Linked DNA regions of Homo sapiens. The protein of the gene in region 1 interacts with the protein of each later gene in a pairwise test. Each region holds a gene or a part of one and is shown on either strand. Other genes may lie near its edges.

What was found.
Region 2: the proteins of GAD2 (region 1) and LDAF1 interact in binary tests that used the Homo sapiens proteins (3 or more experiments, as listed by UniProt).

Annotation. Positions count from the first base shown.
Region 1 is NC_000010.11:26,300,272-26,304,101, forward strand, and holds part of GAD2 (glutamate decarboxylase 2), read left to right. Parts: intron 1-516; coding exon 517-690; 3' UTR 691-3,830. UniProt on the Homo sapiens protein: Catalyzes the production of GABA.
Region 2 is NC_000016.10:21,175,479-21,178,529, forward strand, and holds part of LDAF1 (lipid droplet assembly factor 1), read left to right. Parts: intron 1-1,658; coding exon of another isoform or gene 1,659-1,680; exon of another isoform or gene 1,681-1,683; coding exon of another isoform or gene 1,684-1,756; exon of another isoform or gene 1,757-3,051. UniProt on the Homo sapiens protein: Plays an important role in the formation of lipid droplets (LD) which are storage organelles at the center of lipid and energy homeostasis. In association with BSCL2/seipin, defines the sites of LD formation in the endoplasmic reticulum.

The DNA.
Region 1 (3,830 bases):
ATATCTTATAAAGTGAGGCACTGCAAAGAGAGAACGAAAAGAAACTAGAAAGCTCTGGGGTTTCAAGAAAGTTGCCAAAAGTCTGCTTATCTTCATATATCACCTGACACTCAAACTTACATTTTGGTAACAATCCTCTGAACTGTTTATTTCCAATGTTTTTACATTTACTGTGGGGGGAAAATGCCCCCAAACGTCTTGCTAACCCATTTAGCTTGGGGCCAATACTAGATTCATCCCATCCTCCCAAAACACTAACTGGAAAGTCAAGGACAAGGTGGCAGGCAGCTGATAGTCTATCACTTATTATTCCTCTTATCACTTGCAGGATCTTGAATGTGTTAGACTGTTCTAATTCTCTGATCCCAAGAAAACTTGGAGGTAACTCTTTCAAGAGAAAACAATAAGGTTCTGACTGTTGAGCTAAAAACTAAAGACGCTGCTTGCTGTTGGGTTCTTTGACTCAGGGGAGAGTCCCAGGAGAAAGTCACCATGCTGATATGGTCTGTCCCACAGGTGGCTCCAGTGATTAAAGCCAGAATGATGGAGTATGGAACCACAATGGTCAGCTACCAACCCTTGGGAGACAAGGTCAATTTCTTCCGCATGGTCATCTCAAACCCAGCGGCAACTCACCAAGACATTGACTTCCTGATTGAAGAAATAGAACGCCTTGGACAAGATTTATAATAACCTTGCTCACCAAGCTGTTCCACTTCTCTAGGTAGACAATTAAGTTGTCACAAACTGTGTGAATGTATTTGTAGTTTGTTCCAAAGTAAATCTATTTCTATATTGTGGTGTCAAAGTAGAGTTTAAAAATTAAACAAAAAAGACATTGCTCCTTTTAAAAGTCCTTTCTTAAGTTTAGAATACCTCTCTAAGAATTCGTGACAAAAGGCTATGTTCTAATCAATAAGGAAAAGCTTAAAATTGTTATAAATACTTCCCTTACTTTTAATATAGTGTGCAAAGCAAACTTTATTTTCACTTCAGACTAGTAGGACTGAATAGTGCCAAATTGCCCCTGAATCATAAAAGGTTCTTTGGGGTGCAGTAAAAAGGACAAAGTAAATATAAAATATATGTTGACAATAAAAACTCTTGCCTTTTTCATAGTATTAGAAAAAAATTTCTAATTTACCTATAGCAACATTTCAAATGTATTTAAATACATATAATTTTACAAAAGGAAAATATATATATTAAAAAAGATATCCTATTTTGTAACATATAGATTTTTATTTTATATAGGTTATACAAACTGCGGGGGCAGATATAAAATCTAAGCCAGATTTTTTTTTCCTTTCTCTTAATGGAGGCACAATAAAACACTTAGCAAAGTTATTTTGAAACATTGACCCACGAAATTCTTAAAAGGTATTATTGCTTCTTTCTATACATGTTATGGCTTATCACATCTCTAAAGTTAGTATTTCAAGACAAACACAAAAGAATACTGCGAGTTCTTTAAAATAATTGATCCCATTGGCAGTAAGATTCTCTTCCCCTTTAAGTTTTCCACCCATTTTACTCTTAGCGGACTCACTCTGCAAGCGTGACAAACCAGGCTTCATCTCAGATTAAATTAGGGTAATTGTCTCTATTCTGCTTTCCAGTTCGGCCTGTTTTGAACAGAAGGTTGATGCTAGTTCTTGAGGCATCTTCCAAATAGTATTCTTTTATTAGGTCATTTGAATTAATTAGAGAAAGTAAAAATAAAACCTTATCAGCCTGAGCAAAGAGGAATGAAGCACACTCCCAGAATGTGGTGAGCCCAGAAAATTAAAGTTGGCCTTGGGAGAAGAGATCTCTGTGGGACAATAATGACATCATCCTGGCGCCATATTGCCACTGTCCAGGAAAGAGAAATTTACCTCCAGGCCAGTTGCGCATTTCCATCCCCTCCCCATTCCTCCCCACAAAGTCTCTCCCACTAGACTCCCTACCACTGGGACCCAAAATAGTTACTTTATATTCCATGGGTGGTTGTTTTTCTTCCATGAAATGAGCCTCTCACCCTAGATTTTGAGGCATTATCTTAAGATTTTCCTTTATCCATCTCCCATCGAGATCCAAAGTGACCAGAATATGCAGAAATAATAAGATCCTTAGAATTCAAAATAGTATTTTTAAAACATCCTTCTTTCCCTGTGAACCTGATAGAAAAACATGAGCTAACAAAAGCTTCCATAGATATTTATGGGGTCACACATCGTCAGATTCCAAGTGCTGATTGGAGAACAATAGATTGATATGCAGACTGCAAATGCAAATTTAGGAACATTCTCCATTTCTGAATGGACCAGGTAGTTCAGTACTCAGACTGCAGGTATACAAGGGAAGAGAGAAGGCCCTGCCCTTCAACGGGTAGAAATGCCCTACAATATAACATAGAGAAATGCCCTATAATATAACCACAGGATCCAGCCATCTGAAATTTTCATAAGCTTCCCCCTACATTATTTCTCCTAGGCTATATGCAAAAACAGTGATAACTTGATATGAACATGGCTTTGGGCCCTTTCTGTCTAGAAAAACAAATGGGTTCACTATGACAATCAGAAATAAACTCTTTCATCTGTCCCGCAGAATTTCATGAAGGAGTAACCTTCCATTCTAGGCTTTGTCTAATGGCCAAGCATTAGACAAAGCATTAGAAAGCAGTTCCTTTCTCAAAACTGCCTGCTGAGAATAAGCACATAGCTGCCCGACTATCCGGAGCCTCAGGCCCAAAGGTTCCACTTCAGAGACAGAGATGCTAATTGATCCAACCTGCTGTCCTTCGTGGAGAAGACAGTGGGGCCCAGTGCCCTGGTGAACCAACCCTGCTGTACTCCAGGATGCTTTATCTTTTGAGTTACAGATCCTAGATTATAAACTGCTGCTTTTTAGGTTAATGAGATGGTAAAATTTTAAAGGACAATTTGTGCCTATATATGAAATTCCAGCAAAACAATTCTAGCAACAACAATAGCTCTTCTTCCCCGCTCCCCTACCCCTTCCCAGTACTCCTTCAAATTGGCTGAGAGCCTTGCTCAGGCCTGTGCAGGGAAATCCTTACCAACTGTAGCCCAAAGAAGGAAGCAAATAAAAGCCTAGTAGGTCCCAGTAGTTTAATAAATCATCTTGAAAGGAGATGTGGAATCAGGTCAGAAGAGAGTAAGGGAGGAAGGGAGGGAGGGAGGGAGGGAGGGAAGGAGGGAGGGAGGAAGGAAATGAAGGGAGGGAGGGAGGGAGGAAAGAAGGGAGATTATTTTTAATATTAGCCCAAATTCCCAGTGCCATGGTCTTTATGTGTGCCCATTCTTTACAAATCTTAGAAAAGTTTGGTTTTAGCTTTAATCAGAACTGACATGGCCATTTTCATTTATACAGCAATATTGTGTTTATCATTTAAAATACTTGAACAAACAAGTGTGATATGTCTTTATCTGAGACCTATACATGGTATGGACTTCATATACTGCCACAGGATGTGAGGAAAGAAAAGGAAATCAATTCTGACTGTGTTGCCTTTATTATCTGGATAATACTGTCTTGTCACCTCAGATTGGGGTTGTGCACTTTAGATCTGAACTGTACAGTGTTGCAAATCAACATGTGTTTCTGTAAAAGCTTGTACAATATATTATTGATATGTCTTTTTCTGTGTGGTAGCTGTATTGAACTTTGATATTATGAAAACTACATTTGCATCTGTTCCTGTTCTCTCTCTCTCTCTCTTTCCTAACTATATGCCCTCCACATCGGCTCTAATAGAGAACATGCCCTCAGCTAAGCCCCCTACTGAGAAACTTCCTTTGAGAATTGTGCGACTTCACAAAATG
Region 2 (3,051 bases), on another chromosome or scaffold:
GTAATATAGTCTCTACTGGAATTTCTGGAAAGGGCCAGATAGTAAGTATTTAGTAAATAATATAGTCTCTACTGCAGTTAGTCAACTCTGTTGCCGTAGCATGAAGGCAGCACAGACCAGGAAGTAAATGCATGGGCATGGCTGTGTTCCAGTAAAACTTTATTTACAAAGACAGGCAGCTTGCTGGATTTGGCCAACCATTGCTCTATAAGAACTGATATCCTGAGTTTTGTTTTTCTACAAAACAGCCCTTGAACTCCTTACCAAAAGTTTATCCTGTTATTATTCCTATGTTGAAAAATAAAGGGTGAAGTGGGTATAATATAAAATTGCTCAAGGATGGCTCTTATAGGATTGCTTAATTGAATCAACCCTGGAGTCATAATCACCTTTTCAAAAATCGCTTTGATCACTCTTAGTCTTTTGTTTGTTCATTTGTATTTTACTTATAAAATGGGGTCTTGCTGTGTTGCCCAGGCCATTCTCAAACTCCTGGCTTCAAGCAATCCTCCCCCGTTGGCCTCTCAATGAACTGGAATTATAGGCGTAAGGCACTAACTCACTCCCAGTCTTAAAAGATGTAAAAGGAGAAATATTGGCCTATTTTGCATATTGAGGGTGATGCTTCTGAAATAAAATTCCTCCCTGCCTCTGAACGCTGCTGTAACAGGGTGAGTTCTTAAAGATTATACCACAGGAAGTAGCAGAATCTGACTCCCTACTTATCAATGAAGAAATTGAAAAACAAATCCAGGATTTGTACTTGATCTCCTTATCTTCCCCTATTGCTGCCAACCAATTGTTTCCACGTGGGCAGAGGTTCTTAAGCTTTTTGTTCTCAAGTCCCATTTTACCTTCTTAAAAATTATTGAGGCATCTGAAGAGATGTTATTTATGTGGTTAATTGTATTAATAGCACTTTGGGAGGCCAAGGAGGGAAGATCACTTGAGGCCAGGGGTTTAAGACCAACCTAGGCAACATGGCAAGACCACATCTCTACAAAAAATACAAAAATTAGCCAACTGTGGTGGTGCGTGCCTGTAGTCCCAGCTACTCAGGAGGCTGAGATGGGAGGATCATTTGGGCCCAGGAGTTCAAGGCTGCAGTGAGCTGTGATCACACCATTGCACTCCAGCCTGGGCAACAGAGCAAGACCCTGTCTCAAAAAACAAATGAAATGAGCTGAAATATAAAATAAATAACTAACATGACATAAAACTATATACAATAAAATAAATTAAAATAAACATAACATAAATTACATTAAATCAAATTAAATATTAGCTGGTGCATGCTTGTGGTCCCAGCTACTCAAGAGGCTGAGGAGGGAGGATGGCCTGAGCCTGGGAGGTTGGGGGTGCAGTGAGCTATGATTGTACCACTGCACTCCAGCCTGGGTGACAGAGCTAGACTCTGTCTGGAAAAAAAAAAAAAAAGAATATTAATAATTATTTCTTTTTAAAAAATTTTCTTCCTCATTGTTTCTTGTTCTGAAATAATTATTCTATGAGAAATCATAGCATAAATTTTAAAAATATCTATTCATTTAAAAGGAACAATATTACCTGTTGATATAAATAACAAATTTTAATGAAAAGTAACTATATTTTCCAAAACAAAATGAAATTTGTGAGTGGTATTATTTTACATTTTACAGATCTCTTTCATATCTGCCTTAACAGTTGTCAGCCGGCTTCTCGTTTGTGTGGCTGCATTCATTCTGTTGTGCTATGTTGTCCTGTTTGGAGTATTTGAAGAAGACCTAGCATCACTAACATGCGGTTGGGAGAGGGAGGCAAAGCTTTTTTAAACGATTGTGGATATTCTATGATAGTCCACCAAAACTCCGTAAGTGATAGTTTCTTAAAGGTTAGCTGAAATGTGAAATTTTTCTACTCTATTTTATTGAAATCTTCAGGTCTGTGTCACACTTTAAATTGATCTTTATCATGCATGATTTTCTAACTTTACCCATTGGTCAATGGGAGAATATCAATTCATTGAGTCATGCAGATCTTCCAAATATATTTTGAAAAATTGCACTGTTCCCTTGTGAGAGAATGTGAGTGAAAAAGGCATATAATAGGTCATGTTATTGTGAACATGGTTTTCATCTGAGAACCCTTGCATTAGCGAATTCTTTTTTTTTTTTTTTTTTTTGAGACGAGTCTCACTCTCACCCAGGCTGGAGTGCAGTGGCTTGATCTTGGTTCACACAACCTCTCCCTTCTGGGTTCAAGCAGTTCTTCTGTCTCAGCCTCCCGAGTAGCTGGGATTATAGGTGTGCACCACCATGCATGGCTAATTTTTGTGTTTTTAGTAGAGGTGGGGTTTCACCATGTTGGCCAGGCTGGTCTTGAACTCCTGAGCTCAAGTGATCCACCCACCTCAGCCTCCCAAGATGCTGGGATTATAGGTGTAAGCCACTGTACCCAGCCTGCATTAGTGAATTCTTTATAACTCAAAAAAAGATAACTCCCTCATTAAATGATCGAAAGCATGGAATGGGGGGAAGAGGAGCTATATAATTTATTTCATGATTTAATGGAATTTTGGCCCTAAAACATAAAAGATAATACAGCTTAAATTTTTAAAAAAGAAAAGAAAAAGGAAACAAAACTGTAAGTTTCCCTTACATATGAAACCCAACTAAACAATATTTAGATCAAATACACTGACCTGCCTCCTATGTAGATCAGCTAGCCTCTGAGGGGCAAAACCACACTGCTTGGTTATGGAGACTGCAAGACCTTCCAGGGCCTGCAGCTCAGGAGAAGTAGGGGCCCTGGGCAGCTGTGTTTATTTGCAGAGCCACCAAACTCACTACCCCATATCATAATCTTCCAAACCAGCCTGAGCATAACTAGCTTCCTTACATCTTTACTAAGAAAAGGAAAGGCTTCTTTCTTAGTTTTTTGTTATCAGGGAGGAATGGTTTAGGTGGCAAATAATGAAAAAAACCAAAGTAGATACTAGTTTAAACACACAGGGAACTTTTTTTTATTGCTTAATGAAAAACTGGAGACAGCCCAGGGCTGGTGCAGCCAGTG